4 linked regions of the Homo sapiens genome follow. The protein of the gene in region 1 interacts with the protein of each later gene in a pairwise test. Each region holds a gene or a part of one and is shown in the gene's direction. Other genes may lie near its edges. The genes, in order: STIP1, CCDC117, PPP5C and POLA2.

Region 1 (7,834 bases):
TTTGTTTTTAAATTACCACTACTGGTGATAGAAGTGTATGTACAGGTAGGTAGATGGTGAATGAATATTTGACTTAGGACAGCAAACTGGCATGGCAGCTGTACAGATGACCTGGCATTTAATCCCAGGTGTGTTTGAGCCCACCATCTGGAAGCCATTCCTGAAAACAAACACGATTTCTCTACCTTTTGTTTTCATTTTCAACTGTGAGGTTTGTATTTCAGTTTAGAAAATACTCAAGTTGGGCCGGGTGCAGTGGCTCACACTTGTAATCCCAGCACTTTGGGAGGCCGAGGTGGGCGGATCATGAGGTCAGGAGTTTGAGACCAACCTGTCCAGCATGGTGAAACCCCGTCTCTAGTAAAAATACAAAAGAAAAAAGAAAAACTGGGCCGGGCGTGCTGGCTCACGCCTGTAATCCCAACACTTTGGGAGGTTGAGGCGGGTGGATCACGAGGTCAGGAGCTCAAGACCAGCCTGGCCAATATGGTGAAACCCTGTCTCTATTAAAAATACAAAAATTAGCTGGATGTGGTGGCACGCGCCTGTAGTCCCGGCTACTTGGGAGGCTGAGGCAGGAGAATCGCTTGAACCCGGGAGGCGGACCTTGAAGTGAGCCGAGATTGCGCCACTGCACTCCAGACTGGGTAACAGCGAGACTCCGTCTCAAAAAAAAAAAATAAATAAATAAGCGGACATTGTGGTGCGCGCCTGTGGTCCCAGCTACGTGGGAGGCTGAGGCAGGACAATTGCTTGAACCTGGCTGGTCGAGGTTGCAGTGAGCCAAGATTGCGCCACTGCCCTCCAGCCTGAATGACAGCGAAACTGCATCTCCAAAAAAAAAAAGTTGGACAGATTTTGAATGTTCAGGCTTTTTTTTTTCAATAGGGGCCTTTCAAATCCCACAATGATACACTTCTTACATTTAACCCAACACAGGCGTACAGCCATGTAACACATTCAGCAAAACAGTATTTACTGTTATGTGCACTGTGTGCTGGTATTTTTTTGTCCCATTTGGTCTCTTAAAATGCTGGTCATGACCTACAAAATTGATTTCCTGACCCACTGTTGATCAGTACTCTGTTTGAAAAATGCTTTTCTAAAGCATAGGCAGGAACTTCACCAGCTGCCTCTTGACACCACTTGAGTTTTGTTAACTCTTCGTCTTCTGGCCTCCATCTTGGGCTCTAGGATTTTTTATCCCTTGTTTGCTTAATTTGGCAGGTTCCTTCTGCCCTTGCCTCTGTAAGGTCTCTGATTGATGGAAGTTCCTGATCTCTCTATTTGAGGATTCCAAAATCATTTCTCTCTTTTTTTTTTTTTTCCAAATAGAGTCTCACTCTGTCCTCCAGGTGAGAATGCAGTGGTGCAATCTCGGCTCACTGCAGCCTCCGACTCCCAGGTTCAGATGATTCTCCTGCCTCAGCCTGCTGAGTAGCTGGGACTACAGGCATGCACCACCACATCCGGGCAATTTATTTATTTATTTATTTTTTTGAGACTGAGTTTCGCTCTTGTTGCCCAGGCTGGAGTGCAATGACGCAATCTCAGCTTACTGCAACCTCCGCCTCCCAGGTTCTAGCAATTTTCCTGCCTCAGCCTCCCAAGTAGCTGGGATTACAGGCATGCACCACCACGCCCGGCTAATTTTTTTTGTATTTTTAGTAGAGACGGGGTTTCTCCATGTTGAGGCTGGTCTCGAACTCCTGACCTCAGGTGATCTGCCCACCTTGGCCTCCCAAAGTGCTGGGATTACAGGCGTGAGCCACTGCACCCGGCAGCAGCTAATTTTTGTATTTGTAGTAGAGACGGGGTTTCACCATGTTGGCCAGGCTGGTCTCGAACTCCTGACCTCAGTTAATCTACCCGCCTCAGCTTCCCAAAGTGCTGAGATTACAGCCTAAAATCATTTCTCTTGACAAAACTATTTCTTGCATCAATTTACTGGGTCGTGGGTGGATAATACATAGAATGAGTTAGTAACTTCGGTGACAACTCTATCTCACAGAACGTTTACCTCTTAAAAGTGTATTTTGGCCTGGTGTGGTGGTTCACCTTTGGGAGACTGAGGCAGGAGGGTTGCTTTAGGCCAAGAGTTTGAGACAAGCCTGGGCAATATGGTGAGACACCATTTCTACCACAAAAAGAAAAAAACATTTAGCCAGGCATGGTGACACACACTTGTAGTCCCAGCTACTTAAAAGGCTGAGTTGGCCGGGCGCAGTGGCTCATACCAGTAATCCCAGCACTTTGGGAGGCCAAGGCAGGCAGATCACCTGAGGCCAGGAGTTCAAGACCAGCCTGACCAACATGGAGAAACCCCGTCTCTACTAAAAATACAAAATTAGACGGATGTGGTAGTGCGTGTCTGTAATCCCAGCTACTCAGGAGGCTGAGGCAGGAGAATCGCTTGAACCTGGGAGGCAGAGGTTGTGGTGAGGCAAGATTGTGCTATTGCACTCCAGCCTGGGCAACCAGAGTGAAACTCTGTCTCAAAAAAAAAAAAAAAAAAGGGCTGAGTCAGGAGGATTGCTTGAGCCCAGGAGCTCAAGGTTACAGTCAGCTGTGATCATGCCACTGCACTCCAGGCTGGTAACAGAGTGAGATGCCATCTTTAAAAAAAAATAAATATGGCCAGGCGCGGTGGCTCACGCCTGTAATCCCAGCACTTTGGGAGGCTGAGATGGGTGGATTAAGAGGTCAGGAGTTCGAGACCAGCCTGGCCAACATGGTGAAACTCCATCTCTACTAAAAATACAAAAATTAGCTGGGCGTGGTGGCGGGTGACTGTAATCCCAGCTACTCAGGAGGCTGAGGCAGGAGAATCGCTTGAACCTAGGAGGCGGAGGTTGCCGTGAGGCAAGATTGTGCCACTACACTCCAGTCTGGGGACAGAGCAAGACTCTGTCTCAAAAAATAATAATAATAAATACAATGAGCTTCTCAAGGGGTTGCCTGCCCTCAGGTAGGCTGCTGTGGGGCACCTGACCTTTTGTGGGGCAGCTCAGTAAGGAGAAACCCTTTAGTGAGGACACTGTTCTGACAGGGCCAAGGCCTGCCTCACTTTTTTTTTTTTTTTAATGAAAAAGTAAAATTTAATGTGGAAAATGCAAACTTGGGGAGGGCAGAAAGATCACACACAAGGCTGTCACTTCACACTTGGAGGGTTGCACAGTGGCCCAACAGAGGCACACCTCACTTGCCAGACGGTGGGGCAGGTGGGCAGAGGTGCTCCTCTCTCCCCAGTCAGTTGGGTGGCCGGGCAGAGGCGCTCCTCACTTCCCAGTCGGTGGGGCGGCCAGGCAGAGCTGCCTCACTTTTTAAAACTGCTGTATCCCACCGGGCGCGGTGGCTCACACCTGTAATCCCAGCACTTTGGGAGGCCAAGGCGTGTGGATCACCTGAGGTCAGGAGTTTTAAGACCAGCCTGACCAATATGGTGAAACCCCGTCTCTACTAAAATTACAAAAATTAGCCAAGTGTGGGGGTGTGCGCCTGTAGTCCCAGCTACTTGGGAGGCTGAGGCAGGAGAATCGCTTGAACCTGGGAGGCGGAGGTTGCAGTGAGCCGAGATCGTGCCACTGCACTCCAGCCTGGGTGACAGAGTGAGACTCTGTCTCAAAAAACACAACAAAACAAAACCCCGCTGTATCCTTACTTCTTGCACTTTATATGTTTGAGAAGGGAGAGGTTTAAACCACAGTAGCATTTCTTCATCCTCCATCCCCTTTGTAATGTAATATTTAAGAATGGCAGGAATCAATTTGGGGAGCTAGCTTGACTGTTACCCATTAATGAACATTTATCTATCCTGTGGTGACATGTTGCCACACCAGGAAATGGAGACTGGTTCTTCCCTGATGGGAGGAGATGACAACTATGCCATAGGCAAGCATCTTGCCGCTCCCAAGAAAGAGAAGTCTCCGCTGCCATCCCACAGCCTTTGGGTCACTGGAGCATGTATCAGTGCCACTCCGCCCACCTTCTTCCTGTGAGGGGTGACTAGGGCTGTGCTCTGTTTGTCATTTGGATGCTTTGGAAATCTGTGGCAAATGAATTGACTTTTCCATGGAAGGAGCATGTGGCACATTCTGGAGTGGCTTCGTGAGCTCCATGTGGAGACCGGAAGAGTGGCAGAGCCCTCGTTCGTCACATGGGGGCCAGCGTGGAGTGCAGCCTGGGCTCTTTGCCCCTGCTTATTTTTTCTTTGCTGGCTCCTTAGGGAAGGTGTGAGAAATTAAATAAATGAACCGGTTTTCTCTCTTCTGATCTGTAAAGTCACCTATTTATTTGTTGGTAACTACATGAAAGAATGAGTGTTGTCTTTAAAGCTTGGGATTAAATGGGCACATCATAGAGAAGCTGTGTGTTCCTTTCCCCTCAGGTCAATGAGCTGAAGGAGAAAGGCAACAAGGCCCTGAGCGTGGGTAACATCGATGATGCCTTACAGTGCTACTCCGAAGCTATTAAGCTGGATCCCCACAACCACGTGCTGTACAGCAACCGTTCTGCTGCCTATGCCAAGAAAGGAGACTACCAGAAGGCTTATGAGGATGGCTGCAAGACTGTCGACCTAAAGCCTGACTGGGGCAAGGTCAGCTGTGGGCAGTGGAGGGAGAGAGGCCCTTCAGACCCTTCCAGAAATGCCTTTTGGTGGCCTGAGGTTTACCTGTCCTGATACACTGATAGTTACCTACCCACCTCCCTGTTTGAGTATCCTCCTCAGAAATGGCATTTTTCATCAAATCTAAGGTAGCCATTAGTTGTAATACAGGCTTTATTTTTGGTACTAAGAAGGAAGAGGCCAGGGCTGGGCGCGGTGACGCACGCCTGTGATCCCAACACTTTGGGAGGCTGAGGTGGGCGGATCACTTGAGGTCAGGAGTTCAAGACCAGCCTGGCCAACATGGTGAAACCCTGTCTGTACTAAAAATGCAAAAAAATTTAGCCAGGCATGGTGGCATGTGCTTGTAGTCCCATCTACTCAGGAGACTAAGGCAGGAGGATCACCTGAGCCTGGCAAGCGGAGGTTGCAGTGAGCTGAAATCGTGCCACTGCATCCAGCCCAGGTGACACGGCAAGACCCTGTCTCAAAAAAAAAGGAAGAGGCCCGGTACAGTGGCTCACGCCTATAATCCCAGCACTTTGGGAGGTTGAGGCAGGAGGATTACTGGAGCCCAAAGGTTTGGGACCAGCCTGGGTAACATAAGGAGTCCCTGTCTTTACCAAAAAAATAAGGGAAAAAGTGTTGCCAAAGAAACTGACCACAGTCGATCAGAGGTGAACAAGGCGGGGCGGATGTGCCTCTGCTATTTGGATGGATCCTTACAGTAGCAGCCTTGGCCTCGTAGCCTACTCCTCTCCTTTTTTTCTCTTTGGCCTTCATGTGAATACTCATTTTTCCCCCATAAAAGTAGAATTGTTCTTTTTTGAGTTCGTCTTCTAGATTTACCTCTGGGTGTTCTCTATTTTGTGTCTGTCTTTGGTGGTTTAAGGGCTATTCACGAAAAGCAGCAGCTCTAGAGTTCTTAAACCGCTTTGAAGAAGCCAAGCGAACCTATGAGGAGGGCTTAAAACACGAGGCAAATAACCCTCAACTGAAAGAGGGTTTACAGAATATGGAGGCCAGGTTGGCAGGTAGGTACCACGCACAGTTTTCTTTCTTATTATTAATGTGATTAATTTTGAGTCTTCACCCCTGAGAAATGTCAGTCTGGTAGGGTATGGGACACAGTAATTCTAGTGAACTCATTTCATAGTGATGTGCTTTCCTTTATTTGGACAGAGAGAAAATTCATGAACCCTTTCAACATGCCTAATCTGTATCAGAAGTTGGAGAGTGATCCCAGGACAAGGACACTACTCAGTGATCCTACCTACCGGGAGCTGATAGAGCAGCTACGAAACAAGCCTTCTGACCTGGGCACGTAAGTGGACGCCGCTCACTGAGGTTCTGGAAATCGGGGAATGTTATGCTTTCTTCCTGTAACCTCACAGCAGAGGGTTCCCTGGTCTAAACTGCAGAGTTTTTGCCTTTGCTTATTCTCTGCAGAGCAGTAGGTGGTGGTCGTTTATTTGTAATTATAGAAAGGGTCAGGGGAGCATATTTCACAGTAATCTAGAATGTTCTTTGTCATCTGTATACACCTCTCTCCTGCTCTTCTAGAACTCTGATCTAGCGTCAACCCCATCCTTTCCATCTACTTAGGCCCTACTTTCTCTGTTGGTATATCAGAGTGGAAACAGGGTTGAAGTTCATGTGTAAAGATGTGTCTAAATCTTGTACTGGTATTCATCTCTATCAATCCTCTGGCTCCTGAGATCAGCTACGGAAGTATACCTAAAACAACTCATTCCTCTGTGTATCTGCTAACCTTGAGGAATAAACTTGACCTCTGTGACTTCATTTTATTTTATTTTATTTTATTTTATTTTTTCAAGATGGAGTCTCGCTCTGTCCCCTAGGCTGGAGTGCAGTGGTGTGATCTCAGTTCGCTGCAACTTCCACCTCCTGGGTTCAAGCGATTCTCCTGCCTCAGCCTCCTGAGTAGCTGGGATTACAGGTGTACGCCACCACGCCCAGCTAATTTTTGTATGTTTAGTAGTAGCGGTGGGTTTCACCATGTTGGCTAGGCTGGTCTCAAACTCCTGACCTCAAGTGGTCTGCCCGCCTCGGCCTCCCAAAGTGCTGGGATTACAGGTGTGAGCCACCGTGCTCCGCTATCTGTGACTTCATTTTATTTGTTTTTGTTGACTCTATTTTAGATAGTGTTTTGACGGTTTGAGTATTTCTCAATTGTAACTCATGAGTGGTGCAAAATCTAGCCATCTTTTGATGGGTGAGGAGCTTCTAAACACAAGAATCTGACTTTAGTAGTAAGTGGGAGTTAAAAGACTAATTGTGGGGAGGAGTAATTACAATTTTTCTTTATTTTTTTAAATCAATACTAGGAAACTACAAGATCCCCGGATCATGACCACTCTCAGCGTCCTCCTTGGGGTCGATCTGGGCAGTATGGATGAGGAGGAAGAGATTGCAACACCTCCACCACCACCCCCTCCCAAAAAGGAGACCAAGCCAGAGCCAATGGAAGAAGATCTTCCAGAGAATAAGAAGCAGGTCTTGTTTTTTTCTCTCCTCACTGTCACCTATCTATAAACAACTAGAAATCTTTATGTTGAATGGGGACATCTGTTGACCTTGATTGACCATGATTATTATGGTTTTTTTAGAGACGGAGTCTTGCTGTGTTTCCCAGGTTGGTCTTGAACTTCTGGCCTCAAGCGATGCTCCTGCTTCAGCTAGGATTACAGTCACGAGCCACTGTGCCCACCTAAAACTATTTTGAGTGCTTTAGTATGCGCTAAGCTTATGGCTATTATTCATTAGAATGGCCAGCATGTTAAAAAATCAGCTTCAGGCCAGGCACGGTGGCTCATGCCTATAATCCCAGCACTTTTGGAGGCCAAGGTGGGCAGATCACCTGAGGTCAGGAGTTCAAGACCAGTCTGGCCAACATGGTGAAACCTCATCTTCACTAAAAACACAAAAATTAGCCAGGTGTCATGGTGGGCGCCTGTAGTCCCAGCTACTCGGGAGGCTGAGGCAGAAGAATCGCTTGAACTCGGGAGGCAGAGGTTGCAATAAGCTGAGAGCTCATCACTACACTCCAGGCTGGGTGACAGAGCGAGACTCCATCTCAAAAAAAAAAAAAAAAAAAGCTTCACAAGAGCATTCCTAGGAGTAATGTGTAGCAAAGAGTGAGCTGCGGGAGTTGCCCTTCCCGTGGTCACCACAGCGGCTTCATTGCTGCCAGTGTGAATGTTGGTC
Region 2 (7,980 bases), on another chromosome or scaffold:
CGAGTGTCCTGCTCAGCCTCCCGAGGAGCTGGGATTATAGTTGCCCACCACCACACCTGGCTGATTTTTGTATTTTTAGTAGACACAGGGTTTCACCATGTTGGCCAGGCTGGTCGCAAACTCCTGACCTCAGGTGATCCATCCACCTTGACTTCCCAAAGTGCTAGGATTACAGGCATGAGCCACCACGCCCGGCCATGACTCTCTTTTTATAAATATATATTTATGGCCGGGCGCGGTGGCTCACGCCTGTAACCCCAGCACTTTGGGAGGCCGAGGTGGGCGGATCATAAGGTCAGGAGATCAAGACCATCCTGGCTAACATGGTGAAACCCCATCTCTACTAAAAAAAAATACAAAAAATTAGCTAGGTGTGGTGGCGGGCGCCTGTAGTCCCAGCTACTCGGGAGGCTGAGGCAGGAGAATGGCGTGAACCCGGGAGGCAGAGCCTGCAGTGAGCCGATATCACGCCACTGCAATCCAGCCTGGGTGACAGAGCGAGACTCCGTCTCAAAAAAAAAAAAAAAAAAAAAAAAAAAAAAAAAATATATATATATATATATATATATATATATATGTATTTATATTTATACATAGGATCATCTGGAAGTATCGTTTTTGTTTTTTTGAGACAGAGCTTTGCCCTCTCACCCAGGCTGAAGTACAGTGGCATGATCATGGTGTCCTGCAACCTTGAACTACTGGGCTCAAGCAATCCCCCTGTCTCAGCCTCAGTAGTAGCTAGGACAACAGGCATGCACCATCATGCCTGGCTAATTTTTTAGGTTTTATTTTTTTTGGAGACTGGGTCTTGCTATATTGCCCAGACTTGTCTTGAACTTCTGGCTTCAAGCCACATCAGCCTCCCAAAGTGCTGGGATTTCAGATGTGAGCCACCACACCCAGCCTGGAAAAATATTTTTTTTTTTTTTTTTCCCCTAAACCCCAGAGTCAACAAGACTATTTGGTAGCCAAGGCTGGAAAAAAGGATATTTTTTAAGGTAAGGAATGAGGTGGCCATTTGTAGAAATTGCCCAGGAGAGTATCTTTTATATCCAGTTAAGCAGGATTTTACTTTAAGAATGCAAAATTGAATTGTAAATGGCATTAAGAAAACTGAAACCCAATCCATTATCTTGGCAAAGGGGGTTCGTTAGTTTTCTCTTGCATCATCACAATGGCAATAGAGTTAGAGAGGAATGGGGAGAATCTGGAAGCATTTTGCAAGTAAAGTCCATAGAACTTGCTAACTGACTAGATATGGGTGTGAACAAAAGAGAGGCATTCATGGTGATGCCTTGGTTTTTGGTCAGAAAGAGAAAAGTATCTTCTGACAGAGGAAACTTCCTTGATACTGGGAGGTGAAGCCAGCTGAGCTTCTGAGTCCAGTGAGGACTTGGAGAACTTTTGTGTCTAGTCAAAGGATTGTAAATGCACCAATCGGTGCTCTGTGTCTAGCTAAAGGATTGTAAATGCACCAATCAGCACTCTGTAAAAACGCACCAATTAGCACTCTGTAAAATGGACCAATCAGCGCTCAGTAAAATGGACCAATCAGCACTCTGTAAAATGGACCAATCAGCAGGATGTGGGCAAGACCAAATAAGGGAATAAAAGCTGGCCACTTGAGACAGCAGCGCCAACCTGTTCGTGTTCCTTTTCACACTGTAGGTTTGTTCTTTCACTGTTCACAGTAAATCTTGCTGCTGCCCACTCTGGGTTTGCACTGCCTTTATGAGCCATAACACCCACCGCGAGGATCTGCTGCTTCATTCCTGAAGTCAGCAAGATCACAAACGCACCTGGCAGAACAAACAACTCCTGACAGGCCACCTTTAAGAGCTGTAACACTCACTGTGAAGGTCTGCAGGTTCTCTCCTGAAGTCAGCAAGACCACGCACCCACCGGAAGGAAGAAACTCCGGACACATTTGAACATCTGAAGTAACAAACTGCAGACGCACCATCTTTAAGAGCTGTAACACTCACCGCGAAGGTCCATGGCTTCGTTCTTGAAGTTGGGAAGACCAAGAACCAACCGGAAAGAATAAATTCCAGACACAATACTGTTAGACTTCATTGTCCTCCTGTTAAACATAAAAATTTCACAGAGCGTTATCAAACAAGGCTATTCTGACCTCATGGATCACGACAAAAACAAGTTCACTTAATCCTGTCCAAATACAGGCAAAAGCATAAACATTGTCCAAACCACAAAAATTGCTAAATACCACCCTACCCTAACTGATATGAAGGACTGTTGCTACTTTACCAGTTAGAGGTTGAGCTTTCCTTCATTCCTCACACCTTATAGAAAAGATTGGTTAAGATACCCAATCACAGCGGGCAGATCACTTGAAGTCAGGAGTTTGAGGCCAGCCTGGCCAACATGGTGAAACCCCATCTCTACTAAAAATACAAAAATTAGCCAGGCAAGGTGGCACACACCTGTAATCCCAGCTACTCAGGAGGCTGAGGCACGAGAATTGCTTGAACCTGGGAGGGAGAGGCTGCAGTGAGCCAAGATAGCACCACTGCACTCCAGTCTGGGCAACAGAGTGACACACTGTCTCAAAACAAAAAGGACACCCAATCACAAATTTATCCCCACTTCCAGACAGAATTAATTCCAGAGCAAAGCTGTTTTCTTTCTTTTCTTTTTCCTTTCCTTTTCTTTCTCTTGCCCTTTCGCCCAGGCTGGAGTGCAATGGCACGATCTCGAATCTCAGCTCACTACAACCTCTGCCTCCTGGGCTCCCCGACTCAAGCTATTCTCCTGCCTCAGCCTTCTGAGTAGCCGGGACTACAGGCGCCCACCACCATGCCTGGCTAATTTTTGTATTTTTAGTAGAGACAGGGTTTCACCATATTGACAAGGCTGGTCTTGAACTCCTGACCTTGTGATCCCACTGCCTCGGCCTCCCAAAGTGCTGGGATTACAGGTGTGAGCCACTGCACCTGGCCGAAAAGTTCTTTTTTTTTTTTTTTGGAGAGGGAGTCTCGCTGTGTCTCCCTTGCTGGAGTGCGGTGGCGTGATCTCCGCTCACTGCAAGCTCCGCCTGCCGGGTTCACGCCATTCTCCTGCCTCAGCCTCCCAAGTAGCTGGGACTACAGGCACCCGCCACCACCCCCGGCTAATTTTTTGTATTTATTTATTTATTTGTTTATTTATTTATTTATTTTGTGAGACAGAGTCTCACTCTGTTGCCCAGGCTGGAGTGCAGTGATATGATCTCGGCTCACTGCAAGCTCCGCCTCCCGGGTTCACGCCATTCTCCTGCCTCAGCATCCCGAGTAGCTGGGACTACAGGCGCCCACCACCACGCCCGGCTAATTTTTTGTATTTTTAGTAGAGACGGGGTTTCACCGTGTTAGCCAGGATGATCTCGCTCTCCTGACCTCGTGATCCACCTGCCTCGGCCTCCCAAAGTGCTGGGATTACAGGCGTGAGCCACGGAGCCCAGCCAAAAGCTGTTTTTTAAAACCTTCCCTCAAAACGTCTAACACAACCCCAAATCCTATAAAAAGCCTTTGTAACACCTCCTAAGGGAGAAATTTCCTCACTGGAATGAGTAGATAAACCTTTCTTTGTTCAATTATGTACATGTGTGTGCTTTGGCTGAAGGGCATTGACATTGGCATAAGCAGTTTCGATTGGATGGTGGTGCTGTTGTGAGATGGAAAAAACAGGGCATAGTCAGTGATTGGGGGTTGACCATCTGCCAAGCCCAGGCAGGAGATACTGCCTCTGAATGCCCCAAAGAGGCTGGAAGGCTTGCCAGTACCTGTCACAAGTGCTCTGAGGCTTTTGTTTTTGTTTAAGTCCTGAGTTTACTTTTTTTTTTTTTTTTTTTTGAGACACGGTCTTGCTCTGTCACTCAGACTGGAGTGCAGTGGTGTAATTATAGCCCACTGTAACCTCAAACTCATGGGCTCAAGCAATCCTCTCACCTCAGCCTCCCCAGTAGCTAGGACTACAGACATGCACTACCACGGTGGGCTAATTGTTATTTTTTTGTTGTTGAGATAGGGTCAAGCTAGACCTAGGATGGACTCCTGGCCTCAAGCGATTCTCCCACCTCCCACCTCCGACCTCCCAAAGTGATGGGATCACAGGCGTGAGCCACCTTGCCGCGCAACTGAGGTGTTTTTTTGTTTTGTTTTGTTTCTTGAGACGTAGTCTCGCTCTGCCACCCAGGCTGGAGTGCAGTGGCACGATCGCGGCTCACTGCAACCTCCGCCTCCCGGGTTCAAGCGATTCTCCTGCCTCAGCCTCCCGAGTACATGGGATTACAGGCGCGCACCACCACACCTGGCTAATTTTTTATATTTTTGGTAGAGACGGGATTTCACCACGTAGGCCAGGCTGGTCTTGAACTCCTGACCTCAAGTGATTCGCCCACCTCGGCCTCCCAAAGTGGTAAGATTACAGGCGTGAGCCACCGCCCCCAGCCAGCAGCTGAGGTTTTTACTTAATTTTCTATGCTGTTCTAAGGCACCACCAACTTCATTTGTATTAAAATTGTTACATTTTTATTAATAGAGTCACATATGAATAACTGATAATGAGCGTGTATTGTATGTCAGGCACTGCTTTAAGGGCTCTAGATTGTTTTTGTTTTGAGACAGGGTCTCCCGGGCTCAAGAGATCCTCCCGCCTCCACCTTCCAAATTGCTGGGATTACACGAGTGAGCCACCGCCCTGCCCTGGCTCTAGATGTTTAAATTCATGTACTCCGCACATCAACTCTATGATTATATGTACTATTATTATCTCATTTTACTACTGTGGAAACTGAGATACGAAACTTGCGGAGTGAGGATTTGAACCTAGGTCATACTCTTGGCCAGCCAGAGACACCCTAAGCCCCAGCTAAGAGGTCGAGAAGCAGCCATTTTGCTTGTAGTCCGGAAGGACTGCAAATCCCGGCATCCCTCGCGGCAGCGGCCCTCTACACACAACAAATCCCGGCATGCCCCCGAGCGGCCTGAGGTGGAGGGTTCTAGAAGGCGTGACGTGGGGTCGAGAGCGGGATCCGAGGCTGGCGGGTTTTGGCAGTAGCTGTGGCTGCGGCTGCCGGGCCTGGGGACGCGGGCGGCCGAGGCCGCCGTCGCAGCCTCCTCGTCTCGCCGGCTATGGCTGCGCTCGGCCGGCCCTTCAGCGGCCTCCCTCTGAGCGGCGGCTCGGACTTCCTGCAGCCGCCGCAGCCGGCCTTCCCCGGCCGGGCCTTCCCGCCGGGGGCTGACGGCGCCGAGTTGGCCCCGCGGCCGGGACCTCGCGCAGTCCCTAGCAGTCCCGCTGGGAGTGCGGCGCGCGGACGGTGAGGAGCCCGTCGGGCGCAGGGCGCAGGGCGGGCGGGCGGGCGGGCAGGCTGGGCGCCCCTCGCGGCGGGCGCGGGCAGGGGCGCGGGCTCCGCGCCGGGGCTTTTTGACTCCCTCCCCACGGCCCTCCGCGGGAGCTTCGCAGCCCAGTTTACAGATGAAGAAACTGATCCCCGGAGACGTTAACTGTAAGTCGCCGGGGGTCACATAGCCCAGGAGTCCGGTCCGAACCTCAGCTCGACTGCGGCCCGGAGAAGTGAGACTTTCCCAGTTGGAACCTGGGCGACTCGGTCTGGGTGCCCCCTCGGCGCGGCCGCTGTTAGTGACAACTTTCAGTGTCTCATCTGCAAAGTATGCCAAGCATGGGACAGAAATGGGTCCTCTTAGTGAGATTATTTAAATAAAGTGCTTAACACAGCGCCTGCCCCGAGGACGTTTCCCTGGTTTGGTCCTCCCTAATCTGTCTTCCATTACGTTGATAAAAGGACAAGTTGAGATTTCACTGTCCAGTTCTGTCGGGGCAATCCACCGTTACCCGACTGACCTGTGATTTGTACCCATCCCACTAGGCTCAGAAAGGGACGTTTGGTATGTGGGGATGAGCAAGATTATTGGAGCAAGAAAGAGGATACTGAAACCACAAGCTCGAGTACATTTCTTAATTGACTGATTTTTGTTTGTTTCAACAGTGTTTCTGTTCACTGTAAAAAGAAACACAAGCGAGAGGAGGAGGAGGATGATGAGTAAGTTTCAGTGGTTGTTTATTCACTCTGTGGTCACCGTTAGTTGAACCCCTGTTATAGTCTAAATTACTTAAGTGAAAAGGTGAAACATTAGATGAGTGTCTCTGGAAAGAGACACAGAAATTAGTGACATTGGTTGTCTTTTAGAGAAAGTAACAGTGGCAGGCAGACAGGTCAGAGGGAAACTTTTCGCTCTATAACAAGTTGTAATATTTGGATTTTGAGCCATGTTAATATTACATGCACAAAGTAAAATAATTTAAAGGATACATATTGAAAAGTTTTGTTTTTGTTTTTTTTTTTTTTTGGGACGGAGTCTGCCTCTGTCGCCCAGGCTGGAGTGCAGTGGCGCTATGTGGGCTCACTGCAATCTCCGCCTCCCGGCTTCATGCCATTCTCCTGCCTCAGCCTCCCGAGTAGCTGGGACTACAGGCGCCCGCCACCACGCCTGGCAATTTTTTTTTTTTTTTAGTAGAGACGGGGTTTCACTGTGTTAGCCAGGGTGGTCTTGATCTTCTGACTTCATGATCCTCCCGCCTCAGCCTCCCAAAGTGCTGAGATTACAGGCCTGAGCCGCCCCGGCCTGAAAAGTCTTTTTTTTTTTTTTTTTTTTAAAGTCAGGGGCTCTGTCACCCAAGCTGGAGTGCAGTTGTGTGATCACAGCTCACTGCAGCCTCAAACTCCTTGGGCTCAAATGATCCCTCAGCTTCAGCCTCCTGAACAGCTGAGACTACAGACTTGTGCCACCAGGCTCAGCTAATTTTTTAAAAAATTTTTTGTAGAGATGGTGTCTCACTATGTTGCCCAGTCTGGTCATGAACTTCTGGCCTCAAGCAGTCCTCCCAACTCTGGGATTACAGGTGTGAACCGTCCCCCAGGCTGTATTACAAAATCTTTTACTCCACACCCCTAGTTTTCCCCACCAGAGACAACCCCCTTACCTGTTTTCATTGTCTCCTTTAGAAGATAATCTAAAAATTTACCAAGTTCACAAGTGTTTTTCTTTTTCTTTCTTTTTTTCTTTTTTGAGACAAGGCCTCATTCTGTCAGGCTGGAGTGCAGTGGCTGTGTTTTTACATTTGTAGGAAGATATGGTTCACACTGTGCAACACATTGATCTTTTCATTTTACTCTTCTGTAGCTTGTTGCATATCAGCACATAGAGAGAGGTTTACGTAATTTCTCTTTCAATAGTTGAGTGGAGGCCAGGCGTGGTGGCTCACACCTGTAATCCCAGCACTTTGGGAGGCTGAGAAGGGCAGATCAGGAGGTCAGGAGTTTGAGACCAGCTTGGCCAGCATGGTGAAACCCCATCTCTATTAAAATACAAAAATTAGCCATGGGTAGTGGTGCGTAACTGTAATGCCAGCTACTCAGGAGGCTGAGGCAGGAGAATCACTTGAACCCGGGAGGTGGAGGTTGCAGTGAGCCAAGATTGCGCCATTGCACTCCAGCCTGGGCAGTAGAGTGAGACTCCGTCTCAAAAAAACAAAAGAAAGTAGTTGTGTGGAATTCTATCGTAGGACTTGGTGTAGATAATTAACCAATTTCCTATTGATGCATTTCTAAATTATTTCTAATCTTTTGCTATTACAATCTACCCTGACCATTCTTTTGAAGTTCTTTGTATATGTTTGGAAGTATATGAATGATTTCCTTGACGTGGAATTGCTGGGTCTTAAAGTGTGTGCATTTTAAATTTTGAACGTGAGTTTTTGCCAATTTATATGCCCATTAACATCCTCTGAACACAAGTGTGTTTTTAAACTTCGGGATTGCTGCCCAACTAATAGATGAAAAATTATATCTCATAAACAGTCTAATAGAAAAAGAAGTAAGGCCAGGCGCGGTGGCTCACACCTGTAATCCCGGCACTTTGGGAAGCCGAGGCAGGTGGATCACGAGGTCAGGAGTTC
Region 3 (7,834 bases), on another chromosome or scaffold:
TGACCCCTTTCTAGTCAGCCCTCACTCCCATCCCAGGGGCAACCACTGATCTGATTTTTCACCACTGTAAATTAATTCTGCCTGGTTTTGAATTTCATTTCAATGTCATATGGGCTTACAGCGTTTAGTGTCTCTTCTTTCATGTGGCACAATGTGTGTGGGATTCATACATGGATGTTGTGTATATCGGTAGCTCAAGTCCTCCATTGTCTGAACAGCCCATGACTTGTTTATGCAGTCTTCTTTTGAGAGACATTTGGGTTATTTCTACTTTGTAGCTTTTATAAGTATAAGCTGCTATGAACTTCTTGGACAAGTCTTTTTGTGAACATGTTTTCATTGTTCATGTTGAATTTCTCTATTGATTGTCTTTTGTTTCATTGATTTTTCATTCATTATTCTCTATGCATGCTTGAGGTTTAATTTGCTTTCTTCTGGCTTCTGAAGATGGACATTAATGCTGTTAATTTTACATCTTTTCTTCCACACAAAGCATTTAAAACTAAATTTCCTTCCAGGCAGTAAGTTAGCTGCGTCCCGTGAATTTTAATACGTCGTATTTTCATTATCATTGAGTTAGAATTGTTTTCTAATTTTCTTTATGGTTTCTGATTTTATCCATAGATTATTGAGAAGGGTATTGTTTAACTCCCAAATATTTGGGGACTTCTAGATGTTACTGTTACTGATTTCTAATTTGGTCAGACAACACACTCTGGATGATTCCATTGGGGCTATTTTTAGATCTGTCTTGGCAAACATGCAGTATGTACTGGAAAATAGTGTGTATTTTGCAGTCGTTAGTCATAGGGCTCTATAAATGTCAATTAGTTCAAGATGGTTGAGACTGCTGTTAAAAATCTTTTATAGCCTATTTTTTCTAATTGCTCAATCATTTATTGAGGGGGCTGTTAAAAGCTCCGACTATACTTGTAGATTTGCCTATTTCTCCCTATAATTCTCAGTTTTTTGCTTCCTGTATTTTGAAATTTTTATTAGGCACACATTTAGGATTGTTATGCTTTCTTGATGAATTGACTCATTATAATGAAGTGACTTCAGTACTTTTTGGCTTGAAATCCCTGTTTTCTATTAAAATAGTTAAACCAGATTTTTACAGTTAATATTTGCATGCTATAACTTTTCTACCCTTTTGTATTTAACCCATTGGTATCTTTATATTTAAAATGTTTTTCTTATAAACAGCATATACTTGGGTCTTGCCTTTTTATCCAGTTGGACAATCTTTACCTTTTTTTTTTTGAGGTGGAATTTCGCTCTTGTTGCCCAGGTTGGAGTGCAATGGTGTGATCTTGGCTCACTGCAACTTCTGCCTCCTGGATTCAAGCAATTCTCCTGCCTCAGCCTCCAGAGTAGCTAGGATTACAGGCACACGCCACTATACCCAACTAATTTTTGTTTCGTTTTGTTTTTTGAGACGGAGTCTCATTCTGTCACCAGGGTAGAGTGCAGTGGCGCAATCTCAGCTCACTGCAACCTCTGTGTCCCAGATTCAAGTGATTCTCCTGCCTCAGCCTCCCGAGTAGCTGGGACTACAGGTGTGCACCACCATGCCCAGCTAACTTCTGTATTTTTAGTAGAGATGGGATTGTACCATGTTGGCCAGGATGGCCTCGATCTCTTGACCTCGTGATCCACCTGCCTCAGCCTCCCAAAGTGCTGGAATTACAGGCATGAGCCACCATGCCTGGCCTGATTTTTGTATTTTTAATAGAGACAGTGTTTCACCATGTTGGTCAAGTTGGTCTCAAACTCCTGACCTCAGATAATCCACCCACCTCGGCCTCCTAAAGTGCTGGAATTACAGGTGTCAGCCACCATTCCCAGCCAATCTTTACCTTTTAATTGGAGTGTTTAGTTCATTTATGTTTAACTATCAGCAATCATATGATTGCATTTCAATCTACTGTCTAGATGTCTCTTTTCTATATGTCCCATTTGTTTTTTTCCCCCTTGTTTCTCCTTCTTTGACTTTCTTTTGTGTGAATCAGGAATCTTTTAGCATTTCATCTGTTTTATTGAATTTTTTGTTATACTTTTGAATGTGTGTGGCGAGGGGTGGAGTGTTACATGGTTGCTCTAGAGCAGCCCTTCTCAGCTGAGGCTCTATAGAGAGAATTAAGCCCTAACTCCCTTAGGCATCCATTATATCCGCAGTGAATTAACTCCTCTCCTGTGAATCTGTGTGCTCTCCTTGGGAGAACTGAGCAGATATCACTGAAAATATTTTTTGTGGGGCTTAATCATTTCCCGGAACCCTGGATGAAAAAGGCTGCTCCAAAGATTACAATGTGTAACTTTAACTTGTCCTATTCTACTTTCAAATAATAATATGATACTTAATGGACAATATAAGAATCTTATGGCCTGGGGCAGTGGCTCATGCCTGTAATCCCAGCAGTTTCGGAGGCCGAGGCAGGTGAATCACTTGGGGTCAGGAGTTCCAGACTAGCCTGGTCAACATGGCAAAAACCCCATCTCTACAACCCTGTCTCTACTAAAAATACAAAAATTAGCCAGGCATGGTGGCACACACTTCTAATCCCAGCTGCTCGAGAGGCTGAGGCAGAAGAATCACTTGAACCCAGGAGGTGGAGGTTGCAGTGAGCCAAGGTCGTGCCACTGCACTCCAGCCTGGGCAACAGAGCGAGACTCCATCTCAAAAGAAAAAAAAAAAAAGAATCTTACAATATTGTGATTGCTTTTATTTTCTCCCAGCCTTTGTGCTCTTGTCATGCTTATGCATCTGCTATAAATACATTGTTGTCATTTCCTTAAATAGACACTAGTCTTCTAAAGAAATACACGTATGAATACACAGAAAATGTCTTTTATATTTACCCTTTCTCTTACTCCTTGTTTCTTCTTCCATATGTGAGTTTCTATCTGGTATCATGCCCCTTCTGCCTGAGTACTTTTAGCATTTCTTACAGTGCACGTCTGCTGTAGACTAATTCTCTCAGCTTTGGTCTGCCTGAAAATGTTTTTATTTTGTCTTCATTTTTAGGGGTGTCTTTGCTGGATGTAGAGTTCTAGGTTGACATTGTTTCTTTCAAGGCTTTAAATGTGTTTTTTTCCCATTGCCTTTTGACCTCCATTGTTTCTGTGAGAACTCAGCAATCATTCATATCTTTGTTCTATATAGTCTGCTTTTTTCTTCACTGGTTTTAAGATGTTGCCTTTGGGTTTTAGTAGTTTGACTATGATGGGCTTTGATGTGCTTTTTTTGAGTCTGTGGGTTAATATCTTTCATTAGTTTTGGAAAGTTCTTAGCCATTATTTCTTATATTTCTTCCCATTTCTGCTCTCCTCTCCGTCTGGAAAGCTAATAACATGCTCTTTGATACTATTTGATACTATTCCTTAGATCTTAATGACCTGAATTTTTTTAATTCTTTTCACGATTTTTCCTCTATGTATTTCAGTTCAGATAATTTCAGTTGTCCTTATGTTCACTGATTCTTTGTAACTGCTGTCAAGCCCAACAAATGAATTATTTATTTCTTACATTGTATTTTTTATTGGTAGCATTTTCATTTAGTTGTGTTTTTTTTAATAGACTTTTCATCTCTGTGTCTCATGTGTTCATGCATGTTGTCCACCTTTTCCACCAAGTCCTTTCACACATTTACCATGGTTATCTTAACGTCTCTGTCTGATAGTTCCATCATCTGGTTCATCTCTGAGTCTGCTCTGTTACCAGTTCTTCATGTGTTTTACAATTTTATTGTATGCCAGCTATTTTGTATAAAAGAACATTAGAGACTGAGGTAAATAAAGTTTTTCCTCAGAAAATGGCACACTTAGGCTGGGCACCATGGCTCAGGCCTGTAATCCTAGCACTTTGGGAGGCCAAGGTGGGCAGATCGCTTGAGCCCAGTAGTTCAAGACCAGCCTGGGCAACTTGTAGAAACCCCACCTCTACAAAAAAAATACAAAAATTAGCCAGGCATGGTGGTTGGCACCTGTAGTCCTAGCTACTTGGGAGGCTGAGTGGGGAGGATCACCTGAACCTGGGAGGTTGAGGCTGCAGTGAACTGTGTTCGAGCCACTGCACTCCAGCCTGGGTGACAGAGTGAGACCCTGTCTTAAAACAAATAAACAAATAAGAAAATGGCACACATTTCTCCTGTTGAGCCACAAGAGGGAGGGGCTGTGTGAACCTCATCTGTAGTTTAGGGGCAGCTTTTATTGGAGTTTCTTTACCACCGGCTTTAAATGTGTTCAGAGTAGAATTAGGACTTTCCCTTCAGCAGAGCTTGGGATCTTAGCCCTGGCAGAATTCCAGGGATGTCTTTATGTTTTAAAGTCGCCAGCTTTTGGAACTGTGGGAGGCCTCTGGTATTCAGCCCTGCCGCCAGACTGTGGGGCCACTGGGGTGCTCTCCGCTCTCCAGTCTCGCCCCCACTTCTGTACCTCAGGAGGTTTCTCTGCACCTCACTCCCTCGCGCCCAACCTTCCATGAAGCCCGTGTGAGGGAGTTGGCAGGGGGCAGAGGCGGGCTGTGCTGGGGCTCCCTGGAGTCCTCATCTGTCACGCCAGTCCCCACACGGTCATGAACTTCCACTCATTTCCCCTCACGCAGGGCATCCCGCCCTGCTGCCTCGCACCAGGGTGAAAGCTGTGGGCTCCTTCCCCAAGGAAGGGCTCGTCCTGTCTGCATTTTGATTAATTTAGGTCCCTTTGCATTGCCAGCTCTCAGATGGCTTTACCTTTGATTTTGTTGCTTGTTTGGCTTGTTTTCATCTTTAGGGCGAGACAGTCTTTTGTAACTTTTCTACCTTCTGACTAGAAGTGGATGCCGCCTGCATTTTCTTAACACCTTTTTCCCCAGCTTATTTTGGAAATCGTCAGACCTACAGAGAGCTGAAAGAACAGTACAGTTAACATCTGTCCACCCTTCACACAGATTCACCACTTGTGAACATTTTAATGCATTAACTTTATGTGTCTGTCTACTTATTTATGCATTTGTATGTGTATACTTTTTTCTTTTTTTTCCCCTAACCCATTTGAAAGTAAGTTGCAGCCATCATAACCTGGATCTCCCAAAAACAAAGACGTCCTCTTGTGTGACCACAGTTGAATTGTCCTACCTTAGAAATTCATCATTGATGTGATAATACTGACTAAGGTAGACAGTCCACAGGCCATCCGGAAAATCTGGAAACATTGACAAATATGCATGTCATTGTCAAGGTCATATCCAATCTGTGAAAAATAAATCATCTGCATTTCTAGACATCTATTAGTATTTTAATTCTCCCCAGCTCTCCCCAAAACATCCTTTTTAGCTGCTTTTAAAAAATTCAGCGTCCGTTGAAAGCACCAGTGTTGCCTATGACCTGCCTTTTTACCTCTTTTTACCTAGAAAGTCTCACTTCTTTTTTGGGAGACTCTTTTATGACAGTGACATTGCGCTGTGTCCAGGCCAGTTCTTTTATAAAATGTTCTACGATCTGGATTCATGCATGTATTTCCACTTGATGCTGAGTATTTTAAGATAATTCAAGAATCAGGTTTTCGTACAAAACAATCGCAATGCTTCGGCACTGCACAGGCCACAGAAGCCTGCGGCTGCCTCCGGCCCCGCCTGCTCCCGCTCCCCCAGGCCTGCCCTGCCCTTTTTCTTCTCTCCCTGCTTCTCCCTCGCCCTCAGCCCAGCAGCGTCTCATGGGCAGTCCAGGCTTTCGGGGCCAGGTTGGGCAGCAGCCCCTGCAGCCGGTCCCACTGAGTCTGCCCTGCCTTCCAGATTCTGGTACAGGTCAAAGAGGTCCTCTCCAAGCTGAGCACGCTCGTGGAAACCACACTCAAAGAGGTGCGCGTTGTGGGGCAGTGCGGGGAGGGCCAGCGGGGGTGGGCTCTCTGGCTGGGGAGGGGCCACAGAGCTCAGGAACTCACGGATCCACCTCCCTCTCTCCCTCACACCCCACCCCTGTGCCTTTCCTCCTGAATATCCCATTTCTCTCCTGGCCTCTTGGTCTTCGTTTGTGTTCCCTGCTTGTGTCTCTTGCATGATTCTTCTTGGTCTACTGTGAACTCTTACCCTTCCCCTCACCTCTGCCCCCTCCCCACGTCTCTCTCTCGGCCCGTCCCTCTCCGGTGGCCTCTTTTCTTTCAGACAGAGAAGATTACAGTATGTGGGGACACCCATGGCCAGTTCTATGACCTCCTCAACATATTCGAGCTCAACGGTTTACCCTCGGAGACCAACCCCTATGTATCCTTCTCAGCAGAGCCACCCTCTCCCCACCTCCACCCCCAGCCGCAGCCTCAGGTCTGCACAGAGTGGGAGGAGCCCTTGCCAGGAAAAGACGTGACCTTGGAAAGGAGAGGCCTGGCCATGCTGGGGCACCAAGGTGTGGGTGGAGCTGCAGGCTGGCCATGCACCCCAGGCTCCAGGCTCGGACAGGCCTGGGCCAGCACCCACCTGCTGTGTGACCTAAGCTGGTAGCTCAGTCTCTCTGGGTCTTGGCTTGTCTTCGTCTGCCTCAGGATCACATTTGAATGGCACCTGGCACTGGCCACACTTGGGTTCCATCCTGGCTTTGCCACTTCCCAGCTGTGTGACCGAAGCAGGTTACTTCACTGCTTGGTGTCACAGTTTCCCCATTTGCAAAGAGGGATAATAATATGTGCAACCTTGTTACTCAGCAGTTACTGAGAGGACAGGTTAAGAACAGGGCCTGGCCCACACCTGATGCTATCTAAGTATTTCCCCGTGTTATGGTATCTGCTCGATGAACGGCCACTTGTAGGGCCACTAGGCCTATGCATTGTTGAGTGGGAGGGCCCGTGTCCCATCTCCCCCATGGCTCCAGGCCTCTCTGAGGAGAGCTGAAGGAGGTGGACTGACTAGTCCCCGCACCTCCCCGCCACTGGCTTTCCGGGAGACAGGAGGCAGGGTCCTCAGTGCCATACTACTGAGGCTCAGCGGCCAAGCTCTGGCTGGAGCCACGGTGAGGAAAGGATTAGAAACCCAGATCCCTTGAGCCCTGCCAAGTCCTCACTCCCTGGGAGGTGCTGACAGGAGGCTTGAGGCCAGGCAGGAGCAGCCCATCTGGCCCATCTTCTGCCACCACCCCCAACCCCACCGCACCGCACCCTTCCCCTCCACGCTTGCCATGTTTTCCTCAGCAGGACAGATATTTAATGGTGACTTTGTGGACCGAGGCTCCTTCTCTGTAGAAGTGATCCTCACCCTTTTCGGCTTCAAGCTCCTGTACCCAGATCACTTTCACCTCCTTCGAGGTGAGCTGGGAAGTGACAAGGTTTGGGTTCATTGTGGGGTCCTGAGTGGGGCACTCACTCTGCAAGGATAATAGTTGCAGCTGTATTTATTTTGTGGACTCGGAGATCATGCACAGGGCGACCTTTTAAGATTGAGTATGTAGTGCACTGCACAAAAGCATCACACCAAAGGACGCGTTTACATCATAGATAGTGTAGAAATGGATGTTTACTCTGACCATTTTTCAGCAGATGGCAAACAAGGGTGTGAGGATGGGCCCCTTATTCTAATTTGCACAAGGGCATGAAACAGGCTCCTGGGTGGCCCTAAATCTGGCACTAAAGCTGAGTGACTGAGTGAACAGACCAGGGCTCGAGGGTGGGAGTAAGGAGACTGTTGACGAGGCAGTTGTGCCCCCTCAGATTCAGGCTTGGTGTCAGATTTGGGTTCTCTTGATTGAAGTAGAGCCCGGAGCTGAGTGTGCTGGTTCACACCTGTAATCCCAGCACTTTGGAAGGCCCAGGTAGGAGGATCACTTCAGCCCAGGAGTTTGAGACCAGCCTGGGCAACACAGTGAGACTT
Region 4 (7,834 bases), 1.1 Mb from region 1:
TCAGCCTGGTATTCCTCAGCCCTTCATTCCTGAAATTCCTTAAAGGTCTGGGTATGTCCAACCCCATTAAACTGATTCAATTTATAAACTATGAGGCCACCTTCCTTTTCTCCAGTCCCCATTTCCAAAGGTAACCTCATTTTATTCTTCTCTCCCTTTAGATATGAACACAGTAATATTAACCTGTTTTGCTTCCAATTAGTGCTACTCCCTCCCAGAAATACAACTCACGAAGTAACCGAGGAGAAGTGGTTACCTCCTTCGGCTTAGCACAGGGAGTATCTTGGTCTGGGAGAGGAGGAGCTGGAAACATCAGCCTGAAGGTCTTGGGATGTCCAGAGGCACTAACTGGGAGCTACAAATCCATGTTTCAGAAGCTCCCAGACATTCGAGAAGGTGATTGTTTTTCCCTTTGAAATTCTGGTGGATATAAAACCACCTAGAAGGGTGTAGAGTAACAAAGCTTCAGCTAGGCTGGTAGAACAAGTTCCAAGGTTGCCTTTCAATGTATGAGTTGGTAGATGTCCTCATGGAAGCCCTAGTAATGGAGGGACACGGGCAATACTATCAGTGATTGCCCCAAGTCACTTCACTTTGCTAAAACGCACATAACCATTCCCAGCAGCAAAAACTTGAACGATGTAAAGGAATTCAACTTAAAGATATTCATGGTTCCTTCGTTAGAAGCCTTCTTCAGGTTGGCCTTGACTTGCCTAAAACCTCAGTGAGGACTTGAGTAAAGGGCAGACTTGGAGATGGGGTGGGGTTCATGCTGATTCCCTGGAATTGTGCTATGGGGTCTCCTGTGGCCAGATGGAAGGCCAGATTCAGCAACCAAATATCGGAAAATTGGCAAAGGTTTTAGAAGGTTTAAACTGGCCAGATGTCCAGGCACCCTTCCTGCTTCTGTAAAATGACTGACTTTAATATTTTACAATGTGCTGTATTTTCTCTTCTTGGCAAGTGAAATGTCTTAAACATAATACTTTTTTCCACTTCTGGGATTGTAGTTCTGACCTGTAAGATAGAAGAACTTGGCAGCGAACTCAAGGAACATTACAAGATTGAAGCTTTCACTCCTTTGCTAGCCCCAGCACAGGTAAGAGTTGTTCTAATAGTTCTCACTAATTAATATTACGTTTTTAAATCGATGACCAAGAGGCATCCTTCTTGCTTCCTTTTTCACTTCTTGTCTGTGTTCTAGTTTGAACATCTGTCTTGGTTGAATTTGGGAAAATGGGCCCTTCTGAAGAAAGATTTGTAAGTGCTGTCTGGTTTTGTGGCCAGAGAGTGATTTTCTTCCCACTTGGATTAGAGTCTTGCACATAAGCAGAGACTCAAGGCCTTGTTTCCCTTGGTGGTGAGTCAGGTAGCTCCCCGGGGATTTCCCACAAATAGAAGCATTCACGTATCGAGATAAAAGGACAGCAGCGACGGTGGGGTTTTCAGAATCTTGTTCTCTGGACAATGACTCACAGTCTCTCCCCTGGTTTGGTCTCTTGTTATAGACAAACTGCTGCCAATAGTATCTTTATATCATAGTTTAATCTGGCATATATACCAGTGCTTTCTCTCTAGAATGTTTTCTAATCTAAGGGGAAATATATTCTAGAAGTTTCTTTAAAGTACCTTTGTCAATGTTTACATTCAAAGAATGATCAGTTGGGGAAGTGATGCAGAACTGTGTCATAGAAGGAAGTGTTAGAGGACTTGGAAGGAAGTAATTGAGGGAAGGCAGGGAGGCACAATCACTGGGAAAGATGAGACTTCCTCTGTTTTCTCCCAAGAGTGGGAACAGAACAGAGGAAGCCATGGAGACAGAGATTTTAGCTCAATTAATAAAGAACTTCCTGTTAAGAGGTTGTATGGTATGTGGCTAAGGATATGGCTCTAGAGCCAAATTTCTGGTTTCAAACCCAAGCTTCACCCACAGTTTGACCTTGACTAAATTATCTAACCTTTCTGTTGCTTGTTTTCCTCATCTGTAAAATGGATACAGTAATATCCACCCGATGGTTGTTGCAAGGATTAAATGAGTTAATACATATAAAATGCCTAAGAATACATTTTAGAACAGTGCATGGTATTTAGTAAGCTCAAGAAATGTTAGCTATTATTAAGTAGTTATAGCTGCCCAAAGATGCAGTGGGCTGCCCTGGGGTGGTGAGGACAGGGTGGGGTAGGCATCCAGGGGCAAGTTCCCCTACACTAGAGATGCTCACACTTAGGCAGCCTCCTAGGAAGGCTCAAGTGCTGGGTGGATGGGTGGACAAGATGCCCTTTCAGAGTTCTTCCATCCTGAGAGTCAGTGATGACGCGGTAGTCACCTCAGGGTCAAAGCAATGCCCTGCCAAGAAATGTATTTGTTGTTTGCAGTTTGTTTTGCTATTCACCCTATCGACTTCAGATTTTGAGCTCCTGCTCCAAAGACTGTCATTCTTATGCTGTGACCTTCCTTTGGTAGGAGCCTGTCACTCTGCTGGGCCAGATTGGCTGTGATAGCAACGGGAAGCTGAACAACAAGTCAGTGATTCTCGAGGGAGACCGGGAACATTCCTCGGGTGCTCAAATTCCAGTGGATTTATCTGAGCTTAAGGAATATTCTCTGTTTCCTGGACAGGTGAGATTGGAGGAGTTCCACCAGAATGCAGGCGCACTCTTTACCCCTGTAGTGTAGGTGCTGTGCCATGCGCAGCTGCTCCTCAGTTCCTGTCTCTGCTGCCATGGGGTGCAGCTGGAGCACATGCCCCAGAGCAGACACCACTGTTGGGATTCCTGTTTCCCCCATGCTCTGACCCAGGCTCTGGGACCTGACTGCGCAGCCTCAAATCCCAACTCCCCGCTCCATGAGGTGCATGACTGTGCACAAGGTACTTAACCATCTAAACTACAGTTTCTTCACTCACAAAATGGAAATAATAATTCTTACCTCATAGGATTGTTGTGAAAATTAGATCACTTATATAGAGCATAATTATTATTACTAATGCAACGCCCTTAATTCGTTTTCTACAAAAATGCCCTAAGTTTATGATTACAGAATGAGAGTAGTTGGACAATGCTTTTAACTGCCTCAAAATAATGTATTCCAGACCTCATTGATCTCCACTGCTTAGCAATCCTGTTTGTTTTTGTCTTTCAGGTTGTAATTATGGAAGGAATCAACACCACTGGTAGGAAACTTGTTGCCACCAAACTCTACGAGGTACACAGCAGTACCCCCACTTGCCTCTTGGTTTGCTTCAGACAAAGTATGTCTGGAAGCTGTCTGTTCTAGAAACTGGTCCTTTTTAGGAGCCCATTTATTTGTTAGTCAGTTCTCCATCTGTAAGTGGGAACCCACCCCTAGGCCAGGGGTCAGCAAACCCTTTCTATAAAGGGCCAGACAGTAACTCTTTTAGACTTTGTAGCTATATGGTCTCTGTCACAATGACTCAATTCTGCCTTTGTCTACAAAAGCAGCCATAGAGGACTCTTAAACAGATGACTGTGGCTGTGTTCCCATAAAACTTTATTTAAATAGTGGGCTGCAGCCAAATTTGGCCCAGAGGCCGAAAGGTTACCTATCCCTGCTCTAGGCAACAATCCTCCAGAGATTTTCGTAGAATGCCAGGAAAAGTAGCAAGAAACCATTCTCTCCCATCCTTGCCTAGAAGTACACTGATACTTTAGGCACCTGTTTTGCTCCCACTTGTTGCTGGGTATTTTATGACAATTGAGTAGTGACCTCCCATTACCTGGGTTTCTTTGCCCTCTGAGCAGTATAGAAAAATGGCAGGTCCCATCAGATCCAGGGAGCAAGACAGAGGCACATCCTTCCCCTGCCCTCTCGCTCCTCCCCACTGTCCTCCCATCACACACCTGCACCACCCCCAACCTGGTGCCCTCCCCTTTCCTTACCAAGGTGATGCCTGGCGCAAGACCTTACTTGAGCTTTTCCCCTGTTTTTAGGGTGTGCCACTTCCATTTTATCAGCCCACTGAAGAGGATGCAGGTGAGTTTCGGTTCAAATATTGTTTTGCCAACAATGAGGATGGTAGACATGAGTCCAGGAGTGCAGTTTCCCAAGCCCAAGAAAGCTGCAGAAGCTGCTGAAGAGCAATGTGACCAAGCAGTGAGGGCGCCACCATCATGAGTTCGTAGGTTTTTTGTCACAAGACCCCTGGTCTGAGCCCAGTGAGCGTTGGTCGTGCTGTCGCCTGAGTTCTGCCTACATGAAGCATGTTGTTTAAAGACTAATGTTTAACAGGTATTTTTGAAGGTTGCCTTGGAAAGGAAAAGATGTACGATTTCAAAAAGAATTTATTTACATGCAGCATGGGCAGATGCGGTGGCTCACACCTGTATTCCCAACACTTTGGGAGGCCAAGGTGGGAGGATCACCTGAGGCCAGGAGTTGGAAACTAGCCTGGGCAACATAGGGAGACCCTGTCTCTACTAAAAATTAAAAAAAATATTAGCTGGGCTTGTGGTGCATGCCTGTAGTCCTAGCTAATCAGAGGCTGAGACAGGAGGATTGCCTAAGCCCAGGAGTTCAAGGTTGCAGTGAGCTATGGTAACACCATTTTACTCCAGCCTGTGTGACAGAGCGAGACTCTGACTCTTAAAAAAAATTAAAATTAATTAATTTTTTGAAAGTATAATGTGGCATCCTGGATTGGATCCTTGAAGAGAACGGGAACATCAGTGGAACAACTAGCAACATCTGAATAAAGCCAGGAATTTACTTTTTTATTTTTCTGGCTCTAACACTCAACCTCGAGAATCCAGGAATTTAGTTAACAGCGATATACCAGCATTAATGCCTTAATTTTGACAAATGTTCATGGTTACCTAACATGTTAAGATTAGGGGCCACTGGTGAAAGACACACAGGAACTCTGTACTATCTTCATAACTTCTCTACAATTCTAAATTTGTTCTAAAGTGAAAACTTAAAAATAACTTCCTTTTTTTTTTTGAGATGGAGTCTCGCTCTGCCCCCCAGGCTGGAGTGCAGTGGCAAGATCTTGGCTCACTGCAAGCTCCGCCTCCCGGGTTCAGGTGATTCTCCTGCCTCAGCCTCCTAAGTAGCTGGGATTACAGGCGTACACCACACCCGGCTAATTTTTGTATTTTTACAAAACCCCATAGTGATGGGGTTTCACCATGTTGGTCAGGCTGGTCTTGAACTCCTGACCTTGTGATCCGCCTGCCTTGGCCTCTCAAAGTGCTGGGATTGCAGGCATGAGCCACCATGCCCGGCCAAAAAGAATTTCTTTAAAACCCTAGTGTTATGTGGTAACTAATCTAGTTGTGGAAAGGCAAAAAGAAAGTTTGACAAACTTTGCTTCTAAATATTTCAACATAATTTCAGCACTTCACAGGGCTGAGGTGGGAAGATCACTTGAGCCCAGGAGTTTGAGACCAGCCTGGGCAATATGGCGAAAACCTGTCTCTACAAAAAAAAAAAAAAAATTAGCTCGGCATGGTGGCATGTGCCTGTGGTCCCAGCTGCTCAGGAGGCTGAGGTGCGGGGATCACTTGAGCCTGGGAAGTCAAGGCTACAGTAAGCCGTGATCATGCCACTGCACTTCAGCATGGGTGAAAGAGTAAGACACTAGATAGATAGATAGATAGATAGATAGATAGATAGATAGATAGATAGAATTTATTTATTTCAAGGTGGCCAGGTGTGATGGCTGACTTCTGTAACCCAGCACTTTGGGAGGCCAAGGTGAGAGAATTGCTTGAGCCCAGTTTAAGTTTAGCCTCCCGGCACATAGTGGGTCTGCATCTCTACAAAAAATAAAAACAAAAAAAATCAGCTTGGTGTGGTTGTGCACACCTGTATAGTCCCCACTACTTGCGAGGCTGAAGTAGGAGGATTGCTTGAGCCCAGGAAGTCAAGGCTGCAGTGAGCCATGATTGTGCCATTGCACTCCAGCCTGGGTGTCAGAGTGAGACCCTGTCTCAAAAAAATATATGTATGTATTTCTGTATTTCAAGGCATTGTTTTTTTTTTCTTTTTTTTTTTTTTAGACAGAGTTTCACTCGTTGCCCAGGTTGTAGTGCAAGGCGCCATCTCGGCTCACCGCAACCTCCACCTCCCGGGTTCAAGCGATTCTCCTGCCTTAGCCTCCCAAGTAGCTGGGATTACAGGCATGCACCTGTAATGCCTGGCTAATTTTTGTATTTTTAGTAGAGATGGGGTTTCTCCATGTTGGTCAGGCTGGTCTCAAACTCCCAACCTCAGGTGATCTGCCCGCCTCGGCCTCCCAAAATGCTGGGATTACAGGCATGAGTCACCACACCCAACCCTCAAGGCATTTTTGTAAGCACAGTGGAGCACTGTTAAGGATTAGCAACCAGATCACTGATACTAGCATGTTGTCAACACCCCATGCATGTAACAGTGGCCAGAGCCATTCTTGGAGATGACCTAGAATCAGGAGTGAAATTTAGGACCTTGTGATATTGCACATTTTATCAGAAAACACAAGTTTGGCCGGGCGTGGTGGCTCATGCTGGCGCAGGAGGATTGCTTGACCACAGGAGTTTGAGAGCAGCCTGGGCAACATGGTGAAACCTCATCTCTACAAAAAGTACAAAAATTAGGCCAGGCGCAGTGGTTCACCCCTGTAATCCCAGCACTTTGGGAGGCCGAGGTGGGCGGATCACACGGTCAGGAGATAGAGACCATTCTGGCCAACAAGCTGAAACCCCATCTCCACTAAAAAATACAAAAATTAGCTTGGCTTGGCAGCGTGTGCCTATAATCCCAGTTACTCAGGAGGCTGAGGCAGGAGAATCGCTTGAACCTGGGAGGTAGAAGTTGCAGTGAGCCGAGATCGCCAATGAACTCCAGCCTGGCGACAGAGCTAGACTCTGTCTCAAAAAAAAAAATTAGCTGGGTGTGGGCATGGTGGCATGTGCCTATAGTCCCAGCAACCTGGAAGGCTAAGGTGGGAGGATCACTCTCCTGAGTCCAGGAGTTCAAGGCTGCCATGAGCCATGATCATACCACTACTGCACTCCAGCCTAGGAGTGAGAGTGAGATCCTATCTCAAAAAAAAAAAAAAAAGAAAAAGAAAAAAAAGAAAATACAAATTTATAGGGGGCAAGGGTGGCATGCTGGTATTAGGTCAACTTCAGGTAATGAAATCAACCTGGCTGAGATACCAGGAGCCTGAGCTGTGTACCAGAGAAGCCTTTGGAAACAGTTTAACAGGTTGTTAATGAACTTTTGTACAAGGAATTAAATGAGGCACTCATGGAGATACAGAATAAGACATGGCCCTCGCCCTCCAGAGACTCACTGCTTACACTGGGGCTCACATCTCCTGTAGGCTTCTCAGAGCCAAACTTAACTTTGTCCCCTACCCCACCACCACATGAAACCTGCTCTTCACCTTGAATGCTCTGTCAGTTCATGGTATTATTACCATGATAGACTGAATCACAGCCCCAGGAATCCCTGGAACCTGTGAATATTTTACCATTTGTGGTAAAGGAGACTTTGCCCGTGTGATTAAGTTAAGGCTGTTGAGATGGGGGATTAGCCTGGATTATCCAGGTGGGTCCACTATAATCACAAGGGTCCTTATAAGAGGAATGGCAAGAGAATCAGAGTCAGAGCTTAGAAATGTTAGGCTGCTGTGATTTGAGGAAGCCTAAAGAAAAATTTTATTTCAAAATAGAGAAATCTTAGGCTTCTGGCTTTGCCGCTGCAGGTGGGGCCATGAACCAGGGAATGCAGGTGGCCTCTGAAAGCTGGAAAAGGCAAGGAAATGGATTCTTCTCTAGAACCTCCAGACAGGAGGAACTCAGCCCTGCCCACACCTTCAGTTTAGGA

The links.
Region 2: the proteins of STIP1 (region 1) and CCDC117 interact in binary tests that used the Homo sapiens proteins (3 or more experiments, as listed by UniProt).
Region 3: the proteins of STIP1 (region 1) and PPP5C interact in binary tests that used the Homo sapiens proteins (3 or more experiments, as listed by UniProt).
Region 4: the proteins of STIP1 (region 1) and POLA2 interact in binary tests that used the Homo sapiens proteins (3 or more experiments, as listed by UniProt).

Annotation. Positions count from the first base shown.
Region 1 is NC_000011.10:64,188,691-64,196,524, forward strand, and holds part of STIP1 (stress-induced-phosphoprotein 1), read left to right. Parts: intron 1-4,387; coding exon 4,388-4,597; intron 4,598-5,498; coding exon 5,499-5,640; intron 5,641-5,788; coding exon 5,789-5,930; intron 5,931-6,954; coding exon 6,955-7,123; intron 7,124-7,834. UniProt on the Homo sapiens protein: Acts as a co-chaperone for HSP90AA1. Mediates the association of the molecular chaperones HSPA8/HSC70 and HSP90.
Region 2 is NC_000022.11:28,767,715-28,775,694, forward strand, and holds the start of CCDC117 (coiled-coil domain-containing protein 117), read left to right. Parts: upstream 1-4,980; 5' UTR 4,981-5,135; coding exon 5,136-5,320; intron 5,321-5,422; exon of another isoform or gene 5,423-5,509; intron 5,510-6,010; coding exon 6,011-6,064; intron 6,065-7,980. UniProt on the Homo sapiens protein: Facilitates DNA repair, cell cycle progression, and cell proliferation through its interaction with CIAO2B.
Region 3 is NC_000019.10:46,377,638-46,385,471, forward strand, and holds part of PPP5C (serine/threonine-protein phosphatase 5), read left to right. Parts: exon of another isoform or gene 1-4,887; intron 4,888-5,773; coding exon 5,774-5,839; intron 5,840-6,142; coding exon 6,143-6,241; intron 6,242-7,166; coding exon 7,167-7,272; intron 7,273-7,834. UniProt on the Homo sapiens protein: Serine/threonine-protein phosphatase that dephosphorylates a myriad of proteins involved in different signaling pathways including the kinases CSNK1E, ASK1/MAP3K5, PRKDC and RAF1, the nuclear receptors NR3C1, PPARG, ESR1 and ESR2, SMAD proteins and TAU/MAPT.
Region 4 is NC_000011.10:65,278,528-65,286,361, forward strand, and holds part of POLA2 (DNA polymerase alpha subunit B), read left to right. Parts: intron 1-202; coding exon 203-396; intron 397-1,010; coding exon 1,011-1,099; intron 1,100-2,464; coding exon 2,465-2,620; intron 2,621-3,142; coding exon 3,143-3,205; intron 3,206-3,951; coding exon 3,952-3,994; intron 3,995-7,834. UniProt on the Homo sapiens protein: Accessory subunit of the DNA polymerase alpha complex (also known as the alpha DNA polymerase-primase complex) which plays an essential role in the initiation of DNA synthesis.